2 separate regions of the Homo sapiens genome follow, and region 2 is linked to region 1. The links come from fine-mapping of genetic effects on gene expression. A gene starts in region 1. The other region holds a variant in brackets. All regions are shown on one strand. Distances are from middle to middle. Region 1 holds the start of ARHGAP26 (Rho GTPase activating protein 26). Region 2 overlaps ARHGAP26 (Rho GTPase activating protein 26).

Region 1 (16,188 bases):
AGCAAAATTCTACTCCTAGGTAAAAAATGAAATTAGAAGTGAAAACATATATACACATGAAGACACGTATGCAAACATTCATAGCAGCATTATTCATAAGAGCAAAAAACTGGAAATGACCCAAATCATCAGCTGGTGAATGGATAAACAACTTATGGTTTACAAAATGGAATATTTTCTAGCAATAAAAAGGAACAAACTACTGATACATGCTACAACACGATGAGCCTCAAACACAGCATGCTTAGTGAAAGAAGCCAGATGCATAAGACTACATATTATATGATTCCATTTAGCTTAATTTTTCAGGGAAGAGAAATCTATAGAGACAGAAAGTAGTAGATCAGTGGTTGTATGAGGCTTCAGGCAAAAATGCAGTGCCTGCAAATGAGCATGAGAAAGCTTTTCGGGGTGCTAAAAATGTTCTAAAACAGGACTAGGATGATGGTTGCATAACTCTGTAACTACAAACCACTGAATTATACACTTAAGAAAAGTGAGTGGCTAGGAGCCGTGGTTCATGCCTGTAATCGCAGCACTTTGGGAGGCCAAGACGGGAGGATCACCTGAGACCAGGAGTTCGAGACCAGCCTGGGCAACAACAAAGTGAGACCCCCATCTCCACAAATAATAAAAACAATAAAAAATAAAATCTTAAAAGGTGAATTTTATGGAATGTAAATTATAATTCAATTAACCTTTTATGAAAAATTCCCCCAAAAACATGCTGACCTGAAGCAAGTAACTGCTTTGAAAGGAATAAATATAAATATAGTGTTCTTGTGAGAGACAACCATGATCAATTGGTATGTCAATTCCAAGTGTTAGTGATCATACTGAAGGGAAACGAAATGGAAAGAAAAAAATACATTTTTATGACTTTAAAAGAGAAAGAATAGTCTTTCCTAATGACAGCTGTTGATAATTAAAACTCAACAATAAGATATTTAGCCATGAAGAGAAATGAAATCCTAACACATGCTATTAACATGGATGAACCTTGAAAATATTTTGCTAAGTGAAATAAGCCAGATATTTATGACAAATATTGTATAATTCCACTCATAAGAAGTACACAGAATAGGTAAATTCATACAGACAGCAGAATAGAGGTTACTAGGGTTGGGGGAGGGGAAAGTGGGGAGTTATTGTTTAATGGGAACAGAGTTCCAGTTTGAGATTATGAAAATGTTCTCGAAAGAGATAGTAATTATACAACATGGTGAACATGCTGAAAACCACTGCATTATATACTTAAAAATGACTAAAGTGGTAACCGTTGTGTTATGTATATTTTACAACAAACAAACCTCGACAAAGAGAAATAACCCAAATAAAAATGGGCAAAAGATCTGAAGACCCCTCACCAAAGAAGATATGCAGATGGCAAGAAAGCAATATGAAAAGATGCCAAACATCATATGTCATAAGGAAATAGCTAAATTTTTTAAAATGAGATACCACTACACACCTAGTAGGATGGTCAAAATCCAAAACACAGACAAAACCAAGTGCTGAGCAGAATGTAGAGCAACAGGAACTCTCATTCATTGCTGGTGAGAATGCAAAACAGTATAATCAGTTTGAAAGCCGGTTTGACAGTTCTTAAAAAAAACTACACGTACTATTTTATTTTATATATATATACATTACTATATAATCTAACAATTATACTCCTTGGTATTTACCCAAATGAGTTAAAAACTTATTTCCACATATAAACTGCACGCAAATGTTTATATCGGCTCTATTCATAATTGATAAAACTTGGAAACGACCAAAATGTCCTTCAATAGATGAAAGGATAAACTATGGCACATCTAGATAACAGAATATTATTCAGCAATAAAAAGAAATGAGCTACCCAGCCATAAGAGGACATGAAAGAACCTTCAGTACACATTGCTAAGTGAAAAAAAGCCAATCTGCAAAGGCCACATACTGTTTAATTCCAACTACATGACATTCTGGAAAAGGTAAAACTAGAGAGACAGTAAAAAGATTAGTGGTTGCCCGGGGTTAGTGGGGAGGGAGGGATGAATAGGTGGAGCACATAGGATTTTTAGGGTAGTGAAAGTATTCTGTATGTTACTATGATGGTGTTTATATGTCATTATACATTTGTCAAAATCCACAGAATGTACAACACAAAGAGTGAGCCCTAATGTAAATTATGGACTTTAGTTAATAATGTTATATTGATATTGGTTCATCAACTATAACAACTGTACTATGCTAATGCAGGATGTTAGAAATAGGGGCAACTGGAAGGGACAGGTATGAGGCGCTATGTGGGAACTTTCTACACTTCCCACTCAATTTTTCTGTGAATCTAAAACTGCTCTTAAAAAAAAAAAAAAGTCCATTAATGATTTAAGTGCAGGGAAGGAGGGTTTAAGCCAAAGTCAATGAATTGAGAACTACAGACTGGATGCAAATTTTTTCAGTCCAACTAAGAACACAGAATGGAGTAAAATGAAGGGATGTTTTTCAGCCAATGTTATATAAAAACTATAAAAATTTGTTTGAATTTAATTTGCTGTCATTTATGTTTGTATGAGTAATATTCAAAATGTCAATTACTACCATTTACAAATAATTAGGAAATGCCTTTGATTTTCTTTATTCACAAGGTACTGAAGCAAAGCAAAGGATCTGGGGAAAATATTTTGCTACCCAACTCCACATCCATTTGTTCCATTAGGATTTTCTGAGTAACATAATTACTCCTAAACAAAGCAGGTTGGCATCGAACATCCTTTGAGAGTTTATGCCATTCAAGAAGCGCTTATGTATTGCAAAATGCCCACGTTTAATTCTAACAAGTACAAAAGGGTGACAGGCTTTAAAGCATGTAACTCAGTGCTGACCTTTTTACTCTTGCTTTGAAAGGCAAAGAGGATGAACCACTTACTTACCTTACTGAATCACACCAAGAACAGGTTTTTGGCCTCTCTGTTCAATGCTATATTACTCAGTGAAAAGACAATCACTGATAATCATTCAGTGCTACCCCCAAAAGAAACTCTGCTGCTTTACAAAGCCAAGACATATTCAGCCACTCTCATCTGTCCCTCTAGCCTTCAAAGCCCGTGATGGAGAAAGAACTCCAAAACTTCAGAGGATAATACAAAATCTTAGCTGGTCTTTGCTACCCAGGGCTCGGAGTCTAAAAAACAACTGGCAATGTTTTCACTTAATCAAGCACCTGCTGCATGTTTCTCCTTTACGGGATCTAGATCTATAAAGAATTTGCATCTCCATTGCCAGCATCTCATTCATAAAGTGGAAGTAATAGTAACAATGATCTACCTGAACTTTGGCAATCCCTAGAGGACAGTTTTATTGCCTATGATTAACACTCAAAACCAAGTTAAATCCAAAGAGCTAGAAATACTAGTTATAAAATAACTGTAAAATAAAATAAAATATGGCTATAAAATAAAGCCACAAAAGTTTAGAGCTATAAGAGAACATAGATTATCTAAACCCAGTGTTTATATAATTATGTATTTATGTTTAAGTTGTACTGGGAAAACACTTCTGTTTATAGATATAATAAACATGACTGAAGAAAAATAATACACAAACATTAATATAGTAGTATACCACGCAGCAAGCATCTCATGATATCGGAATGTCTGAAATCCAGGACACAATGGTTGACTCCACCCTCTATTTTTAGAGGTCACCTGACCTGATCAAGTAGTAGTTAGTAGTGGTAGAATACATTAGCAGAGCTGGACGTAGAGAGAACAGAACACCGAGATCCCCATCAGTCTTTCCTCCAGATTACAGGGCTGATCCATTCCATTAGACAGCTTAAATAACACTTCAACTCTATCACTGCAATGTTTCTTCCTACCAAAGAATTCTTGCCCCCAAAAACTAGTGGTAGGAAAACTGCCAGTCACCCAAACGCACCCTCCTCAGATTCAATGCCAAAATAGAAAACACAAGTCCAAATTCTAGGGCTTGGTGCAAGAGGTTCCATTCCGGGCAAGTGAGATGGGGCAGAAGTCAAGAGCTCTGCACTGGCAGGGACTCCATCTCTGGCTCAAACCAGGTGGATTCAAAAGCTCTGGTCCTGCTGCTAGAGCTGTGTGACTCAGAGGTAATGCTTCCCCCAGTCTCTGTTTTCTCATTTGCAGAATGAATCTAAGCACATGAGATAATTATATGTGAAGCAGTGCCTGGAATGAAGTACACCTCTGTAAGCACAGGAGCAGCAAAATATTCACTCCTACACCCTTAGTGCCCAGTGCAGTACCCAGTACACCACAATCACACCAAAAGTTTGCTGAGTGAAGCAGAGAACTCACTAAAGCCAGCCTGAGGTTCAATCAAAATTCCTGGGCCCAACCTGTAAGTGGGCCCCTAACTTACTCCAAACCAGGGACCCCCATCCCCTAAACCAAGAATGGCCTTGATTATTGACAAAGGAAGGGTCTGTTCATATGTTTCAGGTAAGGCACAGCCTAAGAATCTGCCTCTAAGAAGCCTCATCACATCACAGTCCTGTGTTCATTTCATCCCAAAAGATTGGCACTTTGGGCTGCCCTGGCATTCCATTGTCTCTCTCTTCATTTTTAGAAGCAACAAGCTGACAAAATGACATCTCAGGCACCTGACTTTTGTAAGTGCCCTTTAAAGAGGCCTGGGAACAATTCCCACAGCTACGACTCTACTCTGCTAAGGCAAGATTTCTTAGCTGAAAGGTATCACCTACTAAGAAATCCATCACAGAAACAGATACAGTAACAGAGTCAGAGACAATTCCACTATCTGCCTTCATGTGGTTCCTGATTCTTAAAACTAAAAGATGGACTGAGCTATTTTTAAATGGGGAGACTGAAAAGGCACCAAAAACGTTCTCACAATCCAAAGCACTCATCCCTAGAGCACGCTTATTTGGCCAGAAAAAGAAACTCTCTGGCTCTGCAAAAGTGAAGCAGAATGCAAAATTGCATCTCTCCCCTTGTACCAAAAGGAAAAAACGCAAAAATGGTTTTACAAAAGGTCCAAGAATCTTTGAAATACGTTTGAACTTCTTTCTGAGAATTATGGATATTCCTTCTCAGACCTTTACAAGGATAACGGAAGAGGTAAAAAGGAGAGCTTGGGAGCAGGAGAGGGAGAGAGTTGGGATATGTACATTCTATTTTTAAACCCTCGCCCACAGTTTAGAGTAAAGGAACACTCTGATTCTCTACTCCCACCCCTATCACCTTCTGCTAAACACAAGAATCAGAACCTGCGCACGTACTGATTCCAGATTTAGAGATTACTGGCTGCCAATACTCCAAGGAATCGCAAGCTAACCAAGCATTCCACCCAGGGAACCCGGCGGCCTGACTAGGCTGGAGCTGCGTACAGGGAGCGAAGCAGTCACAACCCACCTTTTCCCAAGGGGAGGCAGCGCCCCCTCGGCAGGGCACGCTCCATTCTCACGGTTGGGCACTCAAGGCTGAGCAACTCTGCCCCTAAGGGAGCTGGAGCTGTGGACACGATGGGATCTGCCCGCTGGCTGCGGCGCGCTCGGCACTCTGGCCCCACTGCTGGGACACCTGCGTGCCGCGCACGCCCACGCCCACCCGCGCTGCCCCAGAGCACCACCCGCGCTGGGTCACCTCCCGACCATCCCTGAACGCAAAAGGCGGAGCGACGGGTCTCTCTCTTCATCTGATGGTTGCTGGTTCGCCCGCTTTACGTATCCTTCCTGCCTCGGAGGCGTCGACACCCGTCCCCCAGTGTACCGGGAGCAGAAACCCGGCAGACGCGCGGGCAACCCGGGCTAAGCGCCACCTCCCAGTTCCTCCCGCCCCGGAGCCGCGTCCCCGAGGGGCTCGGGACACTCACTCTTGAGCGCGCTTATGAGTGACTTCCCGTCCTTGATGAGCTCCTTGATGAATTTGTTGGTCTTGTCCAGCTCTGCTTCGTGCGACTTGAGCGTCTCTCGGAAGTGCGGACTATCGAGGCAGCAGTCGCTGAACTCGAGCGCTGGGAGCCCCATGGTGCGCGCGGCGCCCAGCCGGGGGGCGCGCCTCCGCCGGGGCCCGGGCCGCCCGCCGCCCAGAGCACTCACGCGGCGGGACCCCGGCCGGCTCCCCCGACGGCCGCCGGCTCCACAGGTGTGGCGCTGGCTCACTCCGCGCGCGGTGTCCGCCGGCGCGCAAGACTCCCGAACCGAGCTCGGACCCGGCCGAGGTGCTGCTGTTCCGGGCGCGGGCAACGGAGCGGATCGCGAGCAGGAAACGCAGCGCGGACCCGCAGCGGCGCCGGGAAGCGAGCGAGCGGGCGAGCGAGTGCAGACGCCGCCTCCCCGCCTCCTTCGCTAGCTAGCTCTCGGCAGCCTCGAGCGCCCTCTCACAGCAGCCTCGGCCGCCCCGCCGGTGTCTGGGCCGCTCGAACCTGCTAGCGATGACTTAATCCCCGCCGGGCCAATCAGCGCACCCTCCCCTGCCCGACCCTCAGGCCGCCCGAGGACGCCCGGCCCTTCCGCGGTCTTGATCCAATCAAAGGGGCCTGGAGGCAGGGTCTGCGGCTGGGGGCGTGGCCCTCGCCAACGCCTAGGTCCGCAGCGCAAACTCCGCCTCCTCTTGCCCTCCCAGCGTTGCAGACCCCGAAACCTAGGGGTGAGCGTTGCTGTGCACCCGCCCCCGCTACCTTGCCCGCCTGCTCCAGCCCGAATCCGAGCCACGCATGGCGAGTCTGCTGGTCCTGGGGGCCGAAGAGCCTCGATGTGCCAAGCATGAAAAACCTGGGGACTAGGGCTGCAGTTCACCACCGCCTGCCCTGCACTGCGGGGCAACCGATTTTACACTCAAAATACAGCCCCCTGCTCCGGGAGAATCCCGAGCGACCAAACGCTCCTCTTCCAGTCAGGCAGAAAAATGTTATTTGCATCTTAAAATTACCAGCTCTTGCCTGCAGTCTTCCCGCCCCCTACGGTCCGTCCCCCTCACGGCCACTCCTGCTCAGAACCCGCCCACGGTTCCCCTCAGCCGAAGGAGCTCACATCATTACTAGAATTTCAGCCGCCTGTTATTTTCCTGCTCTGCATCTAGCACAATTTTACATAATAAGATGACAGTCTACTGCCTGTCATCCTTCGCTACACGGTAAGCCCCACGAGGGCAAGTGCCCCTGCAATTTTCTTGTCCGCTGTTGCATCCTGGCACCTAGCACAGTGGCTGGCATTTAATAACAGATATTGAGCACTTACTATGTGCTGTGTGTGCTACGGTGATTGATAAATGTAGAATAAATGAATGGATCCTTTCCCAGAGCCATCTCCACCTCCCACGCCCAGTGCGTTGCCCTGTAGTCCCTCTGTTCGACCGCAGGACTCAATTCTGGCATCTCACTCGTTGCACTTGTCAGGCTGGGTCCCACAGGGTGTCTAGTGCTGAATTGTTAACTCCTGGAGGATAGGGACTGTCCTTGAATAAATTATCTCTATGTCTAGGAACCAGCAGCCCTCCTTCAGCTACGTGGGGGCTTCATGTTTGTTTGGGTTGGTTTGTTTTTTAAATAGGTCTGCTATGTGCAGGCACTAGCCTAGATGGTAAGAATACAAAGATGAATAACAGAATGAATTTAGCTGCTGGTGGTATTAGGTGAGATGGAAGCAAACAAGCGATAACCATGCCTTGTGATAGGATAGAAGGCCTGGGTGCTTGGGAACATGGATTTTTCACTCAGGAGGGGTCAGAGGTGTCCCATCTATATTAAGAAAGCAATTAATGTATTAAATTCATAAATGGAGCATGGTGGCTCACACCTGTAATCCATAACTTTTGGAGGCCAGGTGAGAGGATTGCTTGGGGTCAAGAGTTCAAGACCATCTTGGGCAACACAGCGAGACCCCCCCCATCTCTACAAAAAATTGTAAAATAAATAAGTAAATGTATAAATAAGTGAATGTGATCTCTTTGATAGGTGTATCTACAAATTTAGACTTGATAGCAGGTCCAGACAGCTATCTGATAGATAATTACAACCCAAAAACAATTGTTCTTCACTTGCCAAAGATGAGAAAGATCTAGAATGGAAACCCTATGAAAGTAAATCTGTTTAATGCTTTATCTTGAGCACCTAAAGGTAGGTGTTCTGGTTATCTATTAATACAGAATAAATGATACCAAAAGTTAATGGTTTAAGACAACAGCAATCATTTTATTTTCTCTCACAATCTCTGTGGGTTAGAAATTTAGGGAAGCCAAAGGCTTGAGGTCTCTCATGTGATTGCAGTTGGATGGTGACAGGAGCTGGAGGAGTGGATGGTTAGCTGGGCATCCCACTTTTCAGGTAGACTCAGGGCTTCTCCATATGGCCTTTCTCTGTGGCCCAGTTTAGGCTTCCTCCCAGTATGGCAGCCTTAAGGCTCCAGTGTGAACATATACAGCTCACAAGGAGAAAGGTGCATCACCTTTTATGACCTAGCCTTGTGAGGTGAGAGGCCTGCAGGACTTGTTTTCCAATCACAACCCCACTGATCAAACCAGGATTCATTCCAAACGGGATTCAGTGAAGCAGCCAGCAGAAACCAGCAGGCAAGGAAAAAAGACACTTTTAGTTGCCCTCACTGCTCATTAGCATAGAGACACTCCCACCATTGCCATGACAGTTTACAAATGCCATTGCAACAGGCCATGGCAATGGCCTGGAAGTTACCTTATATGGTTCTGGAAACTCCCTGCCTCCTTTCCAGAAAGTTCTAAATAACCCACCTCTTAATTAGCATATAATTAAAGGTAGGTATAGGTACAGCTGCCAACAGCCCTGTACACTGCCCATCCTGAGCACACTCCCTATGGGATAGCCCTGTTCCACAAGGAGCAGCACTGATTCAATGAAAGTTGCTTTCTCTTACCACTGGCTTGCCCTTGAATTCTTTTCTGGGCAAAGCCAAGAAGCCTCCTGGGCTAAGCTGCAATTTTGGGCCTTGCCTGCCCTGAATCACTTGGAAGCCACATACTTCTACCACCTTCATTGGCTACAAGCAACTCATAAGCCCACCCAGCTTCAAAGGAAGGAGATTAGACTGTACCTCTTGATGGGGGAATGACAAGAATGGGAGATATTATAGTAGCTATTTCTGAAAAACATAATCTGCCACAGTGGGCCCAGCATAAATGGTAACATTCAATACATGCTAAATGAATGAAATAAAATGTGATCCACAATTATTTGTTTTATCCCATTGAGGAATAGTAGGCAAATGTGTGTAAAATAATATATATGTATTAATAATAACAACAATAATATATCAGCTATCATTTGTTAAGCTCTCAGTTTATGCCAGGCACTATGGTAAATTATTTACATGCATTTATAGCTGGCATAGTGGCACACGCCTTTAATCCCAGCTACTCAGGAAGCTGAGACACAAGAATTGCTTGAGCCCAGGAGGCAGAGTTTGCAGTGAGCTGAGGTCGTGCCACTGCACTCCAGCCTGGGTGACGGAGAGAGACTCTGTCTCAAAAAACAAACAAAAAAATTATTTACATGCATATAATCCCTACAGGGTGAGACTGGTACTATGATAGTTCCCATTTTTTCAGATAAGAAATTGAGGCCCAGAGTTGTAACTTGAACCAGCTTACCGAGATAATATTAATAATTCTATGTGGCACAAACATATAACTTAATATGCCCATTCACAGACAAATATGTAAATATGTGAATAATGTGTAAATTTCTCATAAATTTAATATGGAATTTCCACAAAAAACCTCCCACACTTTCAGCAGTATTACTAGAAAGAGAGAATCAGAATGCAGCAGTACAGGCTGGGTGTGGTGGCCCAAGCCTGTAATCCCAGCACTTTGGGAGGCCTAGGCAGGCAGATTACTTGAGGTCAGGAGTTCGAGACCAGGCTGCCCAACATGGTGAAACCCCGTCTCTACTAAAAGTAAAAAAATTAGCCGGGTGTGGTGGTGAATGCCTGTAGTCCCAGCTACTTGGGAGGCTGAGACTGGAGAATCGCTTGAACTTGGGAGGCAGAGGTTGCAGTGAGCCGAGATCGCACCACTGCACTCCAGCCTGGGTGACAGAGTGAGACTGTCTCAAAAAAAAAGAAGAATGCAGCAGTACAGAAACTGGCGCATGGAGGGTGCAGTTGTCTTTCTCTTCCCAGAAAATCTGCTCATAAGGGTAGAGATTTTGTATTATTCAATGCAGCAACCCCAGCTTAGAACAGCAATTGGAACTTCAAAGGTGCTGAACATCAATGAGCCGGACACATGTTTAATAAGAAAGAAACAGGACTCATGTGACAACATCAGTTATGGCCATGCACATAAATAGAAGAGAACAGTTAAGCCGCAGAAATCACTTTCATATGAAATAGAGAAACAATTTAGGCAACATTTGGCCTAAATCCTTTGGATGAATGTCTGAATTCCTTAAAATTAGCAATTAGTTCAAACAGTTCTGCTTTCAGTATCAGTATATTTTAAATCTACATTTTTTCTGGCCTCAATGGTCCAAATAACTTTACACCTGCCATGCAATTACCTCCCATTTGTAGAAACTTTACCACTGGCAAAGCACTCCCATGTACATTGTCTCTGAGTCCATATAATCAGAAGTGGGCATGGACCAGTCACACATTGGTTCCTGAACACCAGCTTGTGAACAGATCTGATCCGTGATGAAGCATTCATGGGTCCTTATGTAACTGAGAAGTTCAGGGGTAGATCCAGCTTCAAGGCAGCCTCTGGGGATCTAGAAGATGATAACAGCACAGGTTTCTCTCTCCATCCCCAAGCTGACCTTTGTCTGTGGTGGCTTCAGTCTCAGTGACTCTCTCAGCTTCTCCAAATTACGCCCAGCAATATTAGCAGGAAGAGAGTTTTCTAAGAATTCCAATAGAAATGACAAGACTGGAGTCAAGGATAAAACAGCCCCACTCCAAAAACGTAAAGTACTGGGGTGAAGTTGTTCCACTAAAGGACAAGCACAGCGCATTTAACAGGGAAAACGGGGATCACTGCTGCACAGGCAGAAGCAATAATGTATAGTGCATTTGACCTGTCCCCAACTCCCTCACAATGAATGCGCCTCCTGCCACATTCTCATGGCCCCATAATTCTAGTTAGCACTTATTCATGCTTTTTTATGGTTGATGCCATATTTTGTGCTGCACAGTGACTTCTCCTTTTTATTATTACTAGACAAGATACCAGTTTTCCTATTTTAAAATAACAATTTAAGGTTGATGTAAATGTTCTATATCTCAGTTAGGGTGGTAGTTACACAGGCATTGCATTTGTCAAAACTCATGGGTGCGTTTTATTGTGTGTAAACCTCATTAAAGGTTGATTTTAAAAAATAATGATGATGGGCCTGGCGCGGTGGCTCATGCTTGTAATCCCAGCACTGTGGGAGGCCAAGGAGGGTGGATCACGAGGTCAGGAGATCGAGACTATCCTGGCTAACATGGTGAAAACCCGTCTCTACTAAAAATACAAAAAATTGTCTGGGCGTAGTGGCACGCGTCTGTAATCCCAGCTACTCGGAAGGCTGAGGCAGGAGAATCGCTTGAACCTGGGAGGCAGAGGTTGCAGTGAGCCAATATCGCACCACTGCACTCCAGCCTGGGCAACAAAATGAGACTCTGTCTCAAAAATAATAATAATAATAAAATAATGATGATGGCAGTGATGCTGATATTTATTAAGCTTTTGCTATGTAACGGGATCTGTGCTAAGCACTCTATTACATTTCTTTATTTAATGTTTACTACAATCCTGAGAATTAGATGCTGCTACCATCCCCATTTTACAGGTAAGGAAACTAAAGCTTAGAGAAGTAAGATGCCTAATGTAGTTACTGATAGAGCTAGACTTAGAATTCAAATCTATCTGGCTTAAATAACTACATCCATATAAAATATCTATAGAAATACATTTTATATGTCTAAAAACATTGTTAAATAATAATAGCCTAACACCTAAAACTTGAATGAGATCACATATGAATGACAGAGGAGCGATTTCATTATCGCTCCTTATGAGCTGTATGTGGTTTTCCAGGGCTTGTTGCTGGTATGTCCCAAATATGTCAATAATTATACAAGCCTCTAATTTGCTTTAGCTTTAAATCACAGGCCCTACAATTTATGTAGAAGCAGTTGATTGAAACAGACATAAAATTCTCAGTTTCCTTAAAGAAAAAAGAATAATCTATCCTCATAAAGCCACTGGCTCATAGTTCTTTAAGGGAGGTAGCAGCACCTATTTAACATTCTTTGGCTCAAGAAATTAGTGAAACTCATAGCATTTGTTCTACACAAGTTTTACATGTTAGCAATACTTTTATTTTCAGTTTTCATGATTTATTTCATGCTTGCCACTTTTCTACCTAATATTCACTCTTTACCTTACTCATTTATTGAAAGTGCTTATATAACATTTACTGTATACCAGATACAGTTCTAAACACTTTAAAAATATTAACTCAATTAATACTTAGCAACCCTATTATTATCTTATCTCCCTTTACAGGGGAGGCAAGTGAAATGAATCACCTAAAATCATATAACTAATGAGTGGCAGAGCTGAGATTCTCAAAAGGTAGTCTAGCTCCAGACTTAGGTTACGTTTCTAGCAGAACCCCAATGTGCCCAACTAAAGAATTTAATTTCTTAGGTTTTCACACAGCTGGTGGTGGCCATGTGCCACTTTTCTGACCACTGAGATACACTTGGAAGTGTATTGGCTGGGGCTTTGGAAAGGTTTGTGTGTTTTTTTGTTCTTGTTGTTTTTTTAATAAAGAGACAACTGCTGACACACACCTTCTGCTTACTTCATTTCCCTATTCTTTTTGTCTTGAATGTGGATGCAATGCATGGAGCAGCAGCAGCCATCTTGCAGTCATGAAGATGAATATCACATGCTAAGGATGGCTGGATGGGAAAACAGAGGGAGCCAGGTAGCTTGGTGACACCCACGAGCCACAATACCCATCTCCAGAGTACCCACCTCCCAACTACTCATCACATAAAGAGGGAAAAAACAACCTATTTGTTTAAGCTACATTAATGGGGTTTCCTGTTACTCAAAGTCAAAACTACTCTAGTTGATATAATGCATTAATTATAAAACCTATTGTTTCACCTCCTCTTGGATTTTCAGCAGCTGCATTAATCCATGGTTCTTAGGCAGTTTTCACATTAGAAAATCATAGTTTTAAGGATGATTTCTTAAACATTAAAAGATGATATCTGCATTTACAGGGCAGGAATATGTATTAAATGAGGAAAAGTATTTAAGCAAAAGGACACTCTATTGATAAAAATAAACTGTTCAAAAGCTGATATGAAACCAGAAAACTATCAAAGACAATTTCAACAGAGACCCAGAATTATCTGGGTCAATAAAAATAATTGGCCTATTCTTCTATAATTGTTGGTGCTAAAATGACCAAATAAATTAGTTCACTTCAGTAACCTAAACTCAAGCATTCCTATGTGCCTTGCTCTCTTTCTTGCCTCTGAATCTTATACATGAGTATATGCTTTAAATGGACAATAGCATATTATAGATCCTGAGAAATCCTGTGTTAAGTAATCCTTGAGATTTTGCTTAACCAAGTATTTCTCGTAGTTCTTTGAGCACAGAATCCTGTTTTTCCCCCAAACATTACATCCTATGCATAGTGTTCTATAAAATGCATTTAGGAGGGTGTGGTGGCTCACGCCTGTAATCCCAGCACTTTGGGAGGCTGAGGCAGGTGGATTACTTGAGATCGGGAGTTTGAGATCAGCCTGGCTAAGATAGTGAAATCCCCTCTCTATTAAAAATACAAAATTAGCTGGGCGTGGTGGCGCATGCCTGTAATCCCAGCTACTCAGGAGGCTGAGGCAGGAGAATTGCTTGAACTTGGGAGGCGGAGGTTGCAATGAGCCGGAATCACGCCACTGCACTCCAGCCTGGGTGACAGAGTGAGACTCCGCCTCAAAAAAAAAAAAAAAAAAATGCATTTAGGACATAAACACTAACATAGACTGCAGGAATAAGGACATATAAGATAAAGCGATAATTTCTAGTCTTCTGTCATTTTAGTTATTGCAAAATAGGAAGTCTGTCATGAAGCATTAGCAAACTTTCTAAAGCAAGTGGGAAACTATCACTTCCCAACTTCGAATCCTTATTGATGGATGGGCTTTTCATCCATGGGAATTCACATTTCTTTTGATGGCTCCGGTTTTGAGATGATGCTGTGGTTTTTAGTGAGTGCATGTGTTTGTTGAAGGTGGCTTAGTGGCAGTGAAGAGGGCAATATTTCAATAGATAAAGTATTCTGATCTTCTTTTCATCTATGGAGAAGCCAGGATGAAAAATCAATGCTAAAATGGATTATCCTCCATCTAAACACAGGGCGAATGGGATACAATGTCTGTTAGGGGAGAGTGAATATTGGCAGATTTCTTTACTTCCCCATTTTCCTTTGTATTTCTTTTCTGGAATTTCCCATCACTATATTTCTATTTTTGACTTTAAAAAGTTAGTAGCTGTTGGCCGGGCGCAGTGGCTCACACCCGTAATCCCAACACTTTGGGAGGCTGAAGCAGGTGGATCACGAGGTCAGGAGATCGAGACCATCCTGGCTAACATGGTAAAACCCCATCTCTACTAAAAATACAAAAAATTAGCCGGGCGTGGTGGTGGGCGCCTGTAGTCCCAGCTACTTGGGAGACTGAGGCAGGAGAATAGCGTGAACCCGGGAGGCTGAAGTTGCAGTGAGCCGAGATCGCGCCACTGCACTCCAGCTTGGGATACAGAGCGAGACTCCATCTCAAAAAAAAAAAAAAAAAAAAAAGCTACTAGCAGTTAAATTCTCAAACTAAAGCATTCTATCACTATAAAGACTAAACATTTTTAAAGATTGTTTTGCCTGAAAAGTAACAATGTGAACTACTCCTGTGCTTCCCAAAGCTGGTCTGATGATATAGGCCAGTCTAGAAAGTTTACTTTGATCCATAATGAAATGAGAAAAACAATGACCATGTAAAGTTTTTCATGAAGCTTAATATATTCCATTTGAAAGAGTGCTTTTTGAGATTATGTTCTTCCTACAAATTTGGCATTAATATACTTTTTTGTATTAACATACTCCTTTTTTAAATAAAATGATGAGTGAAAATAGTAGCTGTGTTTTTAAGAAATACCCACTGGGGCTCACGCCCAGGAGCTGGGCGAATCACCTGAGGTCGGGAGTTCGAGACCAGACCCGTCTCTGCTAAAAATACAAAAAAATTAGCCAAGCGTGGTGGCGGGTGCCTGTAATCCCAGCTACTCTGGAAGCTGAGACAAGAAAATTGCTCGAACCCAGGAAGCAGAGGTTGCAGTGAGCCGAGATCGCGCCATTGCACTCCAGCCTGGGTGACAGAGCAAGACTCCATCTCAAACAAAAAAACAAACAAACCCCACTGGCAAAATTAATATTTGGAAGTTTTATGTCCCTCCAACTTTGTTTGTTGTTTGTTTTGTTTTTTATTCAAAAGTTTAGAAACCTCTTCTTAAGCCCAAGGCAGTCATGTGTCTAGTTTGCTGTGTTCCCTGTGACTTGCAGAGTGCCTAGCAATACTAAGCAACCAATAGAGTTGGTCAGCAAACTTTTCTATAACAAACTTTTAGGCTTTGTAGGCCATACAGTCTTGGTTGCACCTACTCAACTCTGCTGTTGAGGCAGAAAACCAGCCAAAAACAGTGCATAAAAGAATGAGTGTGGTAACTATATTCCAACAAAATTTATAGACACTGAAATTTGGATTTCATATAATTTTTATGTCACAAAATAGTCTTTTTTTCCCACCATTTTAAAATGTGATAACCATTCTTAGTTCATGGACCATACAAAAACAGATGGTAGGCTGGAATTGGCCTGTAGGCTGTAGTTTGCCCACCATAGGGCCAAATGAAAGAAAAGAGTGACTAAGTACAGAGTAAGACCAGAAATCCAGAAATTTCAAATGCGTAGGTACCAACTCCTCTTGGCACTGAGTGCCCGTGACCTCAGGAAAGTCAATTTAAGATACCAGCGTAGCCTAGTTTTCCAGCTATAAATTAGGGAAAGCAATTCAAATCTATTTCTTCAGGCTATTGTTGATGAGAGGTATTATAAATTGACAGCAAGGAAACATGTTGCAACTAAGAAGGACCAAATAATATAACCATG
Region 2 (16,188 bases), 220 kb before region 1:
TCGAGACCAGCCTGGCCAACATGGTGAAACCCCATCTTTATTAAAAACACAAAAATTGGGCCGGGCGTGGTGGCTCACACCTGCAATCCCAGCACTTTGGGAGGCCGAGGCAGGTGGATCATGAGGTCAGGAGATCGAGACCATCCTGGCTAACAAGGTGAAACCCCATCTCTACTAAAAATACAAAAAATTAGCCGGGCGCGGTGGCGGGCGCCTGTAGTCCCAGCTACTCGGGAGGCTGAGGCAGGAGAATGGCGTGAACCCGGGAAGCGGAGCTTGCAGTGAGCCGAGATTGCGCCACTGCAGTCCGCAGTCCGGCCTGGGCGACAGAGCGAGACTCCGTCTCAAAAAAAAAAAAAAAAAAAAAACCACACAAAAATTACCCGGGCATGGTGGTGGGCACCTGTAACCCAGCTACTCAGGAAGCTGAGGCAGGAGAATTGCTTGAACCTGGGAGGTGGAGGTTGCAGTGAGCCGAGATCCCGCCACTGCACTCCAGCCTGGGCGAAAGAGTGAGACTCCATCTCAAAAAAAATAAAAATAAAAATAAAGAACTTAGGACTCAGGAAGCTCTTCAAATATGGAAAGAGTAAATTGCCATCTGTCTAGCAGCATTTTAAGTATTAAATTGCTCACTTACAGTTGTGCTCACCCCAAGAAGGTTAAGCAGTCCGCATCAGGCGAGGCACAGAACCCAGCAGTGTCAGCTATGAAAATAACAATGTCTTGGATGACAATTCATATGGTCTCTGTATGGCAGCTGATCTTTGCATACCCTATGTGCTTTAAAAAATCACTACTGGCCAGGCGTGGTGACTCATGCCTGTAATGCTAGCACTTTGGGAGGCGAGGCAGGCGGATCACGAGGTCAGGAGATCGAGACCATCCTGGCTAACATGGTGAAACCCCTTCTCTACTAAATATACAAAAAATTAGCCGGGCATGGTGGCGGGTACCTGTAGTCCCAGCTACTTGGGAGGCTGAGGCGGGAGAATGACGTGAACCCAGGAGGTTGCAGTGAGCAGAGATTACGCCACTGCACTCCAGCCTAGGTGACAGGGCAAGACTCCCTCTCAAAAAAAAAAATAAAAAATAAAATAAAATAAATAAATAAAAAATCACTGCTGCACTTCTTAAATCATCTTGGAGCCTTTCGAATCAGTTGTGAAATAGTTAATTATTCAATAGTGTTAAGATAATAAAAATCATTTGGAGGAATAAAATCAAGGTTGGTCTTCACCTTACATCTTGATGCCAAAACAAATCTCAGGTAAATATTTATCTTATTATGGGAATCCATTCAAACAAAGATAGGATGCATAAAGTATCTCACAGCCTTAATACAGAAAGAGTAATTAACACTCAAAGGTGAATACACCAAAAGAAAAAAAATGTACAAAGGATAAACTAATTGCAAAAGGAGAAAAAGAATTCAATAACCATAGGGAATATTCAAAAACAAAAAAAAGTCCTAATTATAACAATGATAATATGTTTTACTTTTTGAAAAAGTTAAGAATTTTCTTAAACTTTGGTAGCAACTAGTATAGATGTAGGCTCAGGGAAATGGATATTCCCATATGCAACTCATGGAAGTATAAATTGGCACAGTCTTCATGAAGAGCAAGCTTCAAAGATAAATATACAGTCATGCCTCACTTAATGACAGGGATATGTTCTGAGAAATGCGTTGTTAGGCAATTTTGTTGCCCTACAAACATCATAGAGTGCACTTACACAAACCTAGATGGTATAGCCTACTACACAACTAGGCTATATGGTGTAGCCTATTGTTCCTAGGAGATAAACCTATACAGCATGTTACCATACTGAATACTGTAGGCAACTGACACACAATAGTATTTCTGTATCTAAACATATCTAAACATAGAAAACGTACAGTAAAAATATGGTATAAAGATAAAAAGTGGGGGAGGTTCCAAGATGGCCAAATAGGAACAGCTCCAGTCTACAGCTCCCAGTGTGAGTGACGCAGAAGACAGGTGATTTCGGCATTTCCAGCTGAGGTAGTGGGTTCATCTCAGTGGGGCTTGTTGGACAGTGGGTGCAGCCCATGGAGTGTGAGCCTAAGCAGGGCAAGGCATCACCTTACCTGGGAAGTGCAAGGGGACAGGGAATTCCCTTTCCTGGCCAAGGGAAGCTGTGACAGATGGTACCTGGAAAATCGAGACACTCCCACCCTAATACTGCGCTTTTCCAAAGGTCTTAGCAAACGGCACACCAGGAGATTATATCCTGCACATGGCTCAGAGGGTCCCACGCCCACGGAGCCTTGCTCACCACTAGCACAGCAGTCTGAGATCGAACTGCAAGGCGGCAGCAAGGCTGGGGGAGGGGCATCCACCTTTGCTGAGGCTTGAGTAGGTAAACAAAGCGGCCAGGAAGCTCGAACTGGGTGGAGCCCACCGCAGCACAAGGATGCCTGCCTGCCTTTGTAGACTCCACCTCTGGGGGCAGGGAATAGCTGAAAAAAAGGCAGCAGAAACTTCTGCAGACTTAAACATCCCTATCTGACAGCTTTGAAGAGAGTAGTGGTTCTCCCAACACGGAGTTTGAGATCTGAGAATGGACAGACTGCCTCCTCAAGTGGGTCCCTGACCCCCGAGTAGCCTAACTGGGAGACACCACTCAGTAGGGGCCGACTGACAACTGATACAGCCAGATGCCCCTCTGAGATGAAGCTTCCAGAGGAAGGATCAGGAAGCAACATTTGCTGTTCTGCAATATTTGCTGTTCTGCAGCCTCCACTGGTGATACTCAGGCAAACAGGGTCTGGAGTGGACCTCCAGCGAACCCCAACAGACCTGCAGCTGAGAGTCCTAACTGTTAGAAGGAAAACTAACAAACAGAAAGGACATCCACACCAAAACCCCATCTGTACGTCACCATCATCAAAGACCAAAAGTAGATAAAACCACAAAGATGGGGAGAAACCAGAGCAGAAAAGCTGAAAATTCTAAAAATCAGAGCATCTCTTCTCCTCCCAAGGAATGCAGCTCCTCACCAGCAGTGGAACAAAGCTAGACGGAGAATGACTTTGACAAGTTGAGAGAAGAAGGCTTGAGATGATCGGTAAGAATAAACTTCTCTGAGTTAAAGGAGGATGCTCGAACCCATCACAAAGAAGCTAAAAACCTTGAAAAAAGATTAGACAAATAGCTAACTAGAATAAACTGTGTAGAGAAGACCTTAAATGACCGGATGGAGCTGAAAACCACGGCACAAGAACTACATGACGCAATCACAAGCTTCAGTAGCCGATTTGATCAAGTGGAAGAAAGGGTATCAGTGATTGAAGATCAAATGAATGAAATGAAGCGAGAAGAGAAGTTTAGAGAAAAAAGAGTAAAAAGAAACGAACAAATCCTCCAAGAAATGTGGGACTATGTGAAAAGACCAAATCTACATCTGATTGGTGTACCTGAAAGTGATGGGGAGAATGGAACCAAGCTGGAAAACACTCTGCAGGATATTATCCAGGAGAACTTCCCCAACCTAGAAAGGCAGGCCAACATTCAAATTCAGGAAATACAGAGAAAGCCACAAAGATACTGCTCGAGAAAAGCGACTCCAAGACACATAATTGTCAGATTCACCAAAGCTGAAATGAAGGAAAAAATGCTAAGGGCAGCCAGAGAGAAAGGTCGGGTTATCCACAAAGGGAAGCCCGTCAGACTAACAGCGGATCTCTCGGCAGAAACTCTACAAGTCAGAAGAGTGGGGGCCAATATTCAACATTCTTAAAGAAAAGAATTTTCAACCCAGAATTTCATATCCAGCCAAACTAAGCTTCATAAGTGAAGGAGAAATAAAATCTTTTACAGACAAGCAAATGCTGAGAGATTTTGTCACCACCAGGCCTGCCCTACAAGAGCTCCTGAAGGAAGCAACAATACCAGCCACTGCAAAAACATGCCAAATTGTAAAGACCATTGATGCTAGGAAGAAACTGTATCAACTAACGAGCAAAATAACCAGCTAACATCATCATGATAGGATCAAATTCATGCATAACAATATTAACCTTAAATGTAAATGGGCTAAATGCTCCAATTAAAAGACACAGACTTGCAAACTGGATAAAGAGTCAAGACCCATCAGTGTGCTGTATTCAGGAGACCCATCACATAGGCTCAAAATAAAGGGATGGAGGAAGATCTACCAAGCAAATGGAAAACAAAAAAAAGCAGGAGTTGCAATCCTAGTCTCTGATAAAACAGACTTTAAACCAACAAAGATCAAAAGAGACAAAGAAGGCCATTACATAATGGTAAAGGGATCAATTCAACAAGAAGAGCTAATTATCCTAAATATATATGCACCCAATACAGGAGCAACCAGATTCATAAAGCAAGTCCTTAGAGACCTACAAAGAGACTTACACTCCCACACAATAATAATGGGAGAATTTAACACACCACTGTCAACATTAGACAGATCAACGAGGCAGAAAGTTAAAAAGGATATCCAGGAATTGAACTCAGCTCTGCACCAAGCAGACCTAAAAGACATTTACAGAATTCTCCACCCCAAATCAACAGAATATACATTCTTCTCAGCACCAGACGACACTTATTCCAAAATTAACCACATAGTTGGAAGTAAAGCACTCCTCAGCAAATGTAAAAGAACAGAAATGATAACAAACTGTCTCTCAGACCACAATGCAATCAAACTAGAACTCAGGATTAAGAAACTCACTCAAAACCGCTCAACTACAGGGAAACTGAACAACCTGCTCCTGAATGACTACTGGGTACATAACGAAATGAAAGCAGAAATAAAGATGTTCTTTGAAACCAATGAGAACAAAGACACAACATACCAGAATCTCTGGGACACATTTAAAGCTGTGTGTAGAGTGAAACTTATAGCACTAAACGCCCACAAGAGAAAGAAGGAAAGATCTAAAATTGACACCCTAACATCATAATTAAAAGAACTAGAGAAGCAAAAGCAAACACATTCAAAAGCTAGCAGAAGGCAAGAAATAACTAAGATCAGAGCAGAACTGGAGGAGACAGAGACACAAAAAACCCTTCAAAAAATCAATGAATCCAGCAGCTAGTTTTTTGAAAAGATCAAAAAACTTGATAGACCACTAGCAAGACTAATAAAGAAGAAAAGAGAGAAGAATAAACTAGAAACAATAAAAAATGATAAAGGGGATATCACCACCAATCCCACAGAAATACAAACTACCATCAGAGAATACTATAAACACCTCTATGCAAATAAACTAGAAAATCTAGAAGAAATGGATAAATTCCACGACACATACACCCTCCCAAGACTAAACCAGGAAGAAGTTGAATCCCTGAATAGACCAATAACAGGCTCTGAAATTGAGGCAATAATAGCCTACCAACCAAAAAACGTCCAGGATCAGACGGATTCACAGCCAAATTCTACCAGAGGTACAAAGAGGAGGTGGTACCATTCCTTCTGAAACCATTCCAATCAATAGAAAAAGAGGGAATCCTCCCTAACTCATTTTATGAGGCCAGCATCATCCTGATACCAAAGCCTGGCAGAGACACATACAAAAAAGTATTTTAGGCCAATATCCCTGATGAATATCAATGCTAAAATCCTCAATAAAATACTGGCAAACCGAATCCAGCAGCACATCAAAAAGCTTATCTACCACGATCAAGTGGGCTTCATCCCTGGGATGCAAGGCTGGTTCAATACACACAAATCAATAAATGTAATCCAGCATATAAACAGAACCAAAGACAAAAACCACATGATTATCTCAATAGATACAGAAAAGGCCTTTGACAAAATTCAACAGCTCTTCATGCTAAAAACTCTCAATAAACTAGGTATTGATGGGACATATCTCAAAATAATAAGAGCTATTTATGACAAACCCACAGCCAATATCATACTGAATGGGCAAAAACTGGAAGCATTCCCTTTGAAAACTGGCACAAGACAGGGATGCCCTCTCTCACCACTCCTATTCAACATAGTGTTGGAAGTTCTGGCCAGGGCAATCAGGCAGGAGAAAGAAATAAAAGGTATTGAATTAGGAAAAGAGGAAGTCAAATTGTCCCTGTTTGCAGATGACATGATTGTATATTTAGAAAACCCCATCCTCTCAGCCCAAAATCTCCTTAAGCTGATAAGCAACTTCAGCAAAGTCTCAGGATACAAAATCAATGTGCAAAAATCACAAGCATTCCTATACACCAATAACAGGCAAACAGAGAGCCAAATCATGAGTGAACTCCCATTCACAATTGCTTCAAAGAGAATAAAATACCTAGGAATCCAACTTACAAGGGACGTGAAGGACCTCTTCAAGGAGAACTACAAACCACTGCTCAACGAAATAAAAGAGGACACAAACAAATGGAAGAACATTCTATGCTCATGGATAGGAAGAATCAATATCGTGAAAATGGCCATACCGCCCAAGGTAATTTACAGATTCAATGCCATCCCCACCAATGACTTTCTTCACAGAATTGGAAAAAACTACCCTAAAGTTCATATGGAACCAAAAAAGAGCCGCATTGCCAAAACAATCCTAAGCCAAAAGAACAAAGCTTGAGGCATCACACTACCTGATTTCAAACTATACCACAAAGCTACAGTAACCAAACAGCATGGTACTGGTACCAAAACAGAGATACAGACCAATTGAACAGAACAGAGCCCTCAGAAATAATACCACACATCTACAACCATCTGATCTTTGACAAACCTGAGAAAAACAAGCAATGGGGAAAGGATTCCCTATTTAATAAATGGTGCTGGGAAAACTGGCTAGCCATATATAGAAAGCTGAAACTGGATCCCTTCCTTACACCTTATACAAACATTAATTCAAGATGGATTAAAGACTTAAATGTTGGACCTAAATCCATAAAAACCCTAGAAGAAAACCTAGCCAATACCATTCAGGACATAGGCATGGGCAAGGATTTCATGACTAAAACACCAAAAGCAATAGCAACAAAAGCCAAAATTGACAAATGGGATCTAATTAAAGAGCTTCTGCACAGCAAAAGAGAACTATCATAAGAGTGAGCAGGCAACCTACAGAATGGGAGAGAACTTTTACAATCTACCCATCTGACAAAGGGCTAATATCCAGAATCTACAAAGAACTTAAACAAATTTACAAGAAAAAAATCAAACAACCCCATCAAAAAGTGGGCAAAGAATATGAACAGACACTTCTCAAAAGAAGACATTTATGCAGCCAACAGACACATGAAAAAATGCTCATCATCACTGGCCATCAGAGAAATGCAAATCAAAACCACAATGAGATACCATCTCACACCAGTTAGAATGGCGATCATTAAAAAGTCAGGAAACAACAGGTGCTGCAGAGGATGTGGAGAAATAGGAACACTTTTACGCTGTTGGTGGGACTGTAAACTAGTTCAACTATTGTGGAAGACAGTGTGGCAATTCCTCAAGGATCTAGAACTAGAAATACCATTTGACCCAGCCATCCCATTACTGGGTATATACCAAAGGAATTATAAATCATGCTGCTATAAAAACACATACACACGTATGTTTATTGC[G/A]GCACTATTCACAATAACAAAGACTTGGAACCAACCCAAATGCCCATCAATGATAGACTGGATTTAAAAAATGTGGCACATATACACCATGGAATACTATGCAGCCATAAAAAAGGATGAGTTGGTGTCCTTTGTAGGGACATGGATGAAGCTGGAAACAATCATTCTCAGCAAACTATCGCAAGGACAGAAAACCAAACACTGCATGTTCTCACTCATAGGTGGGAATTGAACAATGAGAACACTTGGACACAGGGTGAGGAACATCACACACCAGGGCCTGTTGTAGGGTGGGGGGGAGGGGGGAGGGATAGCATTAGGAGATATACCTAATGTAAATGACAAGTTAATGGGTGCAGCACACCAACATGGCACATGTATACATATGTAACAAACCTGCACGTTGTGCACATGTACCCTAGAACTTAAATTAAAAAAAAAAAGATAAAAAGTGGTATTCCTGTATAAAGTGCTTACCATGAATGGAGCTTACAGGACTGGAAGTTGCTCTGGGAGAGTCAATGAGTGATTAGTGGGTGAACATGAAGGCCTAAGATATTACTGCACAATACTGTAGACTTTATAAACACTGTACACTTAGGCTACACTAAAGTTATTTAAAGTGTTCTTCTTCAATAATAAATTAACCTTAGTTTACTGTAACTTTACAACCTTTTTAATTTTTTTTAACTTTTTGATTCTTGTAATAACATTTAGCTTAAAACACAAACACATTGTACAGCTGTACAAAAGTATTTTTTCCTTATTCAACAAGTTTTTTTTGTATTTATTATTATTATTTTCCTTTTTAAGCTATTTTTGTTAAAAAACCAAGACGCAAACACAAACATTAGCCTAGGCCTACACAGGGTCAGGATCATCCACATCACTGTCTTCCACCTCCACATCTTGTCCCACTGTAAGGTCTTCAGGAGCAGTAACACACATAGAGCTGTCGTCTATGATAACAATGCATTCTTCTGGAATACCGCCTGAAGGTCTTGTTTAAGGCTGTCTGACCGCTTTTTTTTTTAATAAGTAGAAGGGGTACACTTTAAAATAACAATAAAAAGCAGACTGTAGTAAATACATAAACTAGTAACACAGTCATTTATTATCAAGTATTGCATGTGCTCTACTTTTGTATGACTGAGAGCATGGTAGGTTTGTTTACACCAGCATCACCACAAACACATGAATGATGTGTTGCAGTAATATGACGGCTACAACAGCACTAAGAGATAGGAATTTTTTAGCTCCATTATAATCTTATGGGACCACAGTGGTATGTGTGGTCTGTCATTGACTGAAACATCTTTATATGGTGTGTGACTGTATATGTTCATCAAGCAAATCTACTTCTATGCATTACGCTAAGAAAAGAATCATGTATAGCAGCCCACTGAGAGATGAATGCACAGATCTGTTTCTTATATACAAAATGTTACAAATTATATACTTCTCTGAGGAAAGTGTTCACAATTTTCTTAATATTATTTCTTCTTTCATCAAAGGAGTTTCTAAGTCACTCAACACTTCTGGTTGTAGAATAGTATTTAGAAACAAGTGTGACAGCTACTGCTAATGGACTGTACAATGTCTGTTTCCTTTTCTTCCTTAATCAGACCCTTGATATGTGGGAGCAAGATTTTACCCAGCTGAAAACACACACTCCTCTTAGGAATATGACACAGTTCTGGTCAATGAGACATAAGTGGATATATACAGGCGATTTCTGGCAAACCTTTGTTTTGCTGACATAGACACCACTCCTTCCTCTTCCTGCCTTCCTTCTCCCTGCCTGAACCACAGATGTGAGGCCAGGAGGTGCAGCAGCCTACAAGGAAGACAAAAGCCTACATCCTAAAGGATCCTCCTCACTCTAAGGAGGAGTAAAAAGACACAATGAAGCTGGGTCTTTAATGGCTTCACAGAGCCACCCTATTTGTCCCATGTGGCCTATCATATATATTAATGCCTAAAACTTACTTTAAGCCATTGTTTGTTGGATTTTCAATTGTTTGCAGCAAAACTCACTGCTAAACTGACAGACATGAGAAAATATAAAAAATTAAATGAAAATCCTACTTAAAGTACAATACCTGGAAAGGGATGCATGTTTTGTTTATATATGAATAGATGTGTGTCTAGATATATATAAACACATAATGATAGAAAAGAGTTGAAAACACAAATATCATAAATTAACCACTGTTTTCTAAGATGAGTGATATTCATTTTCCTCTTCATCTTTTTAGTTATTTTCCACATTTTCTACTGTTTGTTACTCTATGTTATTCTTTCAGTCAAAAAATATAGTTTATTTTTTCGATGTAAAAATGCGTGAAAATCTGCATTCTCTTTTCTGTACCTTTATATCTATGTTCTATAGACTTTGGGATTTTTCCTATTTCTCAGACCATTTTGAAAACAATAGAAACAAAGGACCAGGCTGGTCGTGGAGGCTCACGCCTGTAATCCCAGCACTTTGAGAGGCCGAGGAGGGCAGATCACTTGAGGTCAGGAGTTCAAGACCAGCCTGGCCAACATGGTGTAAACCTGTCTCTACTAGTAATACAAAATTAGCCAGGTGTGGTGGCACATGCCTGTAGTTCCAGATACTCACAAGGCTGAGGCAGGAGGGTCGCTTGAACCCGGGAGGTGGAGGTTGCAATGAGCAGAGATTGCGCCACTGTACTCCAGTCAGGTGACAGAGTGAGACTCCATCTCAAAAAAAAACAACGAACCAGCATAGCATCTTTAGGTCTAATTCACCGTGGGGTAGCAAGGGAAGATAAGGCTCAGAGATCACAGACATACAGGTGTCTCCATTTCAGATGCACTGGAGTAGCCGGCAGTCAGGGGACCTGTCCTCCTCCACACCACCAGCCAACAAAGGGCAACCCCTTGTGGCGGGCTGGGCAAGCACAGCAATCCCAGGCAGCTCTCAGGTCACCTGCACGAAATAACCACCAACCCCAGATGCAAGGCTGCATGTGCTATCAGAGGTGGACAGGCAACTTGGACAGCTGCTTCCTGGTCACATCAGGACAACACACAGGGAAAGTCAGACCTAGAGATGACCATCCTGTAAGCCATACCCATGGCCACCTGGACTGAAGATCCCAGGGCCTCACATCAATTTCTGGTCCATCTTCCTCCCACTCCAGAAAAAACAGGTTCAACAATCCAAGCTTGTGATTTGGAGCTAGTCTGACTAACTGCAGCCACATGGTGCCTCAAAGCTAAGGAATGCATACCATTTCAAAACCTCTCAAGAAGAAAGGTATACAACAAAAGGCTAAGATCAGTCACTGGGCAGATAAAATAGCGAGGCTGGAATTGGCTCACACTGGGTGGTGAGATCCTTCCCTTCCTTTTCAGATTCCTTCCTTCCGCTATTCAGCCAATTCCACAGGACTGCCAGGCTGTACAATGGTATAATTCCTGTTCTGCAGCCCTGCCCGCTCCTTCCTGTTTAGTAAAGTCCAAACAGTAGGACAAGACACCCTCCCACTACAAGACACCCCCTGTCCTGCCCCAGAGGGAAGCCAGCAGCCATGTTTAGGGGATCACAGCCCTGATCTCACTCCACTACTGGGATTCATACAGCTGAACAAAATGATTGTTCTCATTAAAAAATGAGCCCATGTTTCATTGCCAGTGCAGGCATCCCCAAGTGCTCCAAAGCGAGTTTGCCTGGGCTAGCAGCCAGCCATCTGGACTGCTCCAACAACTTATGTAACTTGCTGGGTTTTCCACCTTTGCCTTGGGGGATGGGGAGGTGTGTGTAAGGCAGGAAACGGACTTAGATCAAACCATCAGTCCACTGTCTGAACAGCCTGCTAAACATTTGGTCACAGGGCTTTTCAGCCTTCAAAAGCAGCATAAGGTGAGCTGGATCAGTCTAGCTTACATGCAGCAGCAGCAAAAAAGCAGCTTGAGGTCAAATGGATTGGAGAAAAGACTTCCAAGTGGACTAATGCAATGAAAGCCTGCACGAGGCCTCTTCTATGTCAATAAATTACAGAGTAAAATGCAGACAGAGAAGAGGATAGCAAAATGGAAGCCTTTCACTGAGTCGGGAACTTTTGAGGTTTAAAAAGCAAGGAATGGGTGCTGAATTCATTCTGAGCCAGGCTTTGGGTGTGGTGGTACCACGACACCACTTAGGGACAAAGGCAACTCCAGTTTGGTTTTGGGCTGAGCGTTCTGGAGAAGTGAAGAGGGAGACAGGAAGGAAGACGCAATTAATCCTTTAAAGTAGAAAGTATACAGAAAGGTCATTTGATTGAAGATAATTCTGCTCTGCAGGAAAGGAGCCAAGCTGCTGCTTATAATAATAATGACTATCAAGAGCACACTCATGGCTTCAAAAAACGTTCCAAATACTAACTTGCACCCTAGCTAATAAAGCAGACTTTACAGATTTAGGAAACCAAATCATGAGGGTAGCTCATGGCCTTATCACTTCTGAATATAGGGAGGCAGAGGAAGGTGCCTGCATGGCTCAAGAAAGACCACCAGGGCATTTAGACTACATTTTGTGTTTGTGTGTTGTTAATGCTCTGTTCATGTGGCCCAAGTTGCTTCACAGAGAGGTATTTTAAGGATGCATGTCTCATTGAATCCTCCCAGCACACTGGTGAGATAGACACTGTTATTATCCCCATTTTACGGTTTAGGAAATAAGATTAGAAAGTGAATTAATACCATACTAGTGGGTAGCAAGGTTGGGACTTGAACTCCTGCTGTCGGGCAGCAAAGCCTATGTTCTTTATCACTAACCAGCTGATACTGCTGCCACATGCAGCCTCTCTATCTGCATTTTTCTTTCCATGATGACTTTTGATGTTCATAATCACCTTTATAAAAAGGATACATTTGCAATGAAAACATGGCCAAAAGATGGTACTGGTATTTCTCAAAAGATATCCAAACATCATTACTCACCCAGGAAATGAAAATAAACACCAAGTGTGACACTACAACGACAATGACAACTACTACTACGATACACACATGCCCTAGAATGGTTACAACTAAAAAGATGGATAATTCCAAGCATAGGTGAGGGCATGGAACAATTGAAACCCTCACACATTGCTGGTGGGTATGAAAATGGGTACAACCTCTTTGCAAGACTATGTGGCAATATTTACTAAGGTAAAGATTTGTGTCCCTTATGATCCAACAATCCCACTCCCAGGAATATACTCAAGAGATAAGTACTTATGGCCTCAAAACACCTGTAGAAGAACATTCCAGACAGGGTGAGGTGGCTCACACCTGTAATCCCAGCACTTTGGGAGGCCAAGGCAGGCAGATTGCCTGAGGTCAGGAGTTCGAGACCAGCCTGGCCAACATGGTGAAACCCCATCTTTACTAAAAATGCAAAAATCAGCTGGGTGTGGTGGTGGGCACCTGTAATCCCAGCCACTCAGGAGGCTGAGGTAGGAGAATTGCTTAAACCCAGGAAACGGAGGTTGCAGTGAGCCTAGATCGCACCACCGCACTCCAGCCTGGGCAACTAAGCAAGATTCCATCTCAAAAATAAAATAAAATAAAATAAAATAAAATAAAATAAAATAAAATAAAATAAAGGTTCCTAGAGGCTTTATGCACAATAGCTCAAATTTACAAACAATCCATTGTTCAATCGAAGAATGAATAATTAGTGATATGTTCTGTACAACGAAATGCTTTCTACAACAATCAGAACAAACTACTGCTACATGGAAACATGGATGAGTCTCACAGGTATTATACTGCATAAAAGGAGCCACACACAAAGAGTAGATGGTATATGTTTCCATTTACATGAAGCACCAAGAACAGGGAAACTAATCAATGGCAATATAAGTCAGAAGAGTGGTTACCTGGAGGGAGAAGGGGAGCGAGGAAGGTATTGACTGAGTGCACTAGGGAGCCTTCTGGGATGCTGGAAATGTTCTACATCTTGATCTGGTTGGTGATCACATATTTATAAATTTGGCTTGAAAGTGACAACAAGCATTATCCACTCCAGGTGACATTCCTCTCTGAAGGCCTCACTCCGGAGTTTCCAGCTGCTGGCCAGGGATTTATAGTAGGCAGGAAGTGCTGTCTGCCCACCTCCCATACTCCGCCCTCCCCTCTGGCACGCCCACAACAGTGCCTGCAGAGAATAAACTTCATATGGAATTACCTTCTGGGATTGGGCTCACAGTGAGACACTTTCCCTTAATTCTCACACAAATACTCTCTTTGCCTGGAAGGCAAACAATACAGCCAGAACAGAAGCTGGGGCCTCCACTTCTGCATTTTCCTTTTTCCTTGATTGTGTATGGAAGAAATTTGAAAAATATTTCACAAGCCATCAGCCTGTTCCTGCTGTTTTCTTCTGCAGGGATTGATAATGTGGCCCCATCAGTGGCACTCCTAGCCCTCAAGAGATACGTCTATGTTTGCCAGATCCCAAGTGAAACATTGAGTCAAAAGGAATATGTCCCATAGTCTCTGGATGCACAGGGTTCCCAAGGTGGAAGAATCCACTTTCTGAGCAGACTCACTCCAACTGGACACACAGACTGAGCCAGAAAAAAGCAATTGCAGAGCAAAACTCTGACACCAGCTGGGACCTCAAAATTCAGTAGACTTGGGGGATGATATAGAGAGGAGAGAAACAACGCCCAGATGAAACTGCCAAGGTAACACTGTTATTTATTAAGGAGGCAGAAAGTAGAAACATTAAAAAGACAAACTTCTCTCCTACAAATTCCTATCTTCTTTAAGCTAATAACGTTTTTTTCATCTTCACCATGGTATTATCAAACCTAGCAAAATTAATAATTCCTTGATATCATCTGATAGGCAGCCCACATTGAGATTTCCATAATGGCCTCAAAAAGGTCTTTGTATAATTGCTTTGGTTAAATCAAGTCCCAACCCAAGTCCACACATTGCATTTCATTAGGTGTCTTAAGTCACTTTTGTTTTAAACAGTTTCGCCTCCTTTTTCCTTTACCCTAGCATTGCTTTATCAGAGGATATGAATCAGCAATGCTTTAATTCCTTTTTCAAAAATAAATGTGGTAAAGTGTCAAGATTTGATGAAGCTGACTGGTGAGACATGACTGGCCATTATATCATCCATTATGCTTCTTTATATTTTCCCCCAATTTTTTATCTTGAAAATTTTCAATTTTTACAAAAAAAAAAAAAAAAAAGGCAAACTCCTTTCTTGACATAAAGCTCCAGGATTAAGATAATAATAACATTTATAGGGTGTTCAAGAGGTGGAAAGTATCATGCCAATTGATTTCAATGGATTATCTCATTCAAATGCACTGAGAACTCTATGAAGTCAGTGTTAAAATCATCCCCATTTAACAGGTAAGAATCTGGGGCATAAAATTATTCTAAGTAGTCAGGGATGGGACCTAAATTCAACCCAGGTTGTCTGAAACCAGACCACCCTCTTGGCCACCATTCTATACTGGTGCTTCGGTTTCCAGTTTCAGATTGGTTATGTCAATGATGAGAGCAGCACCAGCCAACCCTGGCTATGTATTTTCTGGATGGGGACACAGGTACATAGACAGAGCCCCTCACTCCAAAGATGGCCAAGGATTTCTCACACATTATCTCATACCTCCTCATCACCCAAGAGAAAGAGAGTCGAAGAAGTGGAGAATGAATTTAGGCCAACACTGCTATTGAGGAAAGAGGACATGCTTTGACCATGACCTACCACTCATGGCCTTTGAGGCCTTGGGCAAACCCTAAGCCCCTCTGAATACAGTTAAGACCCAAGGAGAAGCGATCCGACCCCACGCCAATTAAAGCAGAAAAAAAATTTTTAAGACTGAATGTGCTCATTGTGGGAAGGCCTACAAGAACCTAGGAGTGAAATGGAAAATATTTTCAAGATGTCGGATCACTGAAAATAAGTCAGAGGAGTCAAGAGGAACCAGGTCCTTTTCCCATGGCTTTGCAAGTGATCTGTCAACCATCCCAGCCATGGGCTGATGAAACCTCTCAAGGTGCTGCTCCAGTTTCTTCATGCTGGTGAATGTAGCCAGGAAGGAAAGCAGTAGTGGTACGAACAGAGAAACACAAGATACCAGAGCTCGCTGAACTGTGCTGACAACTTACACCCTGGCGCATCTCTGACTCACTGACTTCCTCCGTGAATTTTTGTGGTCAAGGCAGGATAACAGATCTGTCTTTGGGGAGGCAGTGTGAAATGTTTTTGCTTCCTCTCCCTACCACCTTCCATCTTCTTTCTTAACCAGGAGATGGCTAGCAACTTCTAGAGACAGCTGCTTTGGAAGAAGCTGAGCACACAAAGGTTGCCTCCTCACCCAGGAAACTGCTGAGTTCAACGCAAAGACTGGAGGCAAATGTCCAAAGATCCGTATCCAGCAGGGGGAAAAAAACACCTGGCTGACCTGTGGCAGCCCCAGGACCAACAAAAATCTGTCAACAACCATCTACGTGCTTTTAAAGCAAATCAAGATTTCAAAACAGGATTCTTCCACTGTTGTTTTTTTTTTAATAAGGTTAATTGATGGCCCTCTGTGTGCCAATAAAAGAATGTGGAATATCTGTTTGAAGTTCTCTTTATTGGCCCAGC

The links. PIP is the estimated chance that this variant, and not a neighbour inherited with it, causes the effect.
Region 2: its variant is the best candidate, but not a certain one, in a credible set for the expression of ARHGAP26 in whole blood (TOPMed, PIP 0.65).

What each region holds. Positions count from the first base shown.
Region 1 is chr5:142,760,587-142,776,774 of GRCh38, reverse strand. It overlaps ARHGAP26 (Rho GTPase activating protein 26), which reads right to left and starts at 6,398. Exons shown (of 23, transcript NM_001135608.3): 1 at 5,860-6,398. The coding sequence starts at 6,013. LINC01844 (long intergenic non-protein coding RNA 1844) reads right to left here. Exons shown (of 4, transcript NR_110558.1): 4 at 15,782-16,188. RefSeq lists an enhancer at 4,924-5,759 and silencers at 6,055-6,174, 6,185-6,594.
Region 2 is chr5:142,977,339-142,993,526 of GRCh38, reverse strand. All of the region lies in intron 11 of ARHGAP26 (Rho GTPase activating protein 26), which reads right to left. LOC107986457 (a long non-coding RNA gene) reads right to left here. Exons shown (of 2, transcript XR_001742909.3): 2 at 14,744-16,188. Among named protein-coding and RNA genes, the nearest start is that of ARHGAP26-AS1, 120 kb to the right of the region's middle. RefSeq lists enhancers at 9,995-10,836, 10,837-11,679. The variant G/A (reference allele first, on the strand shown) is at 7,572.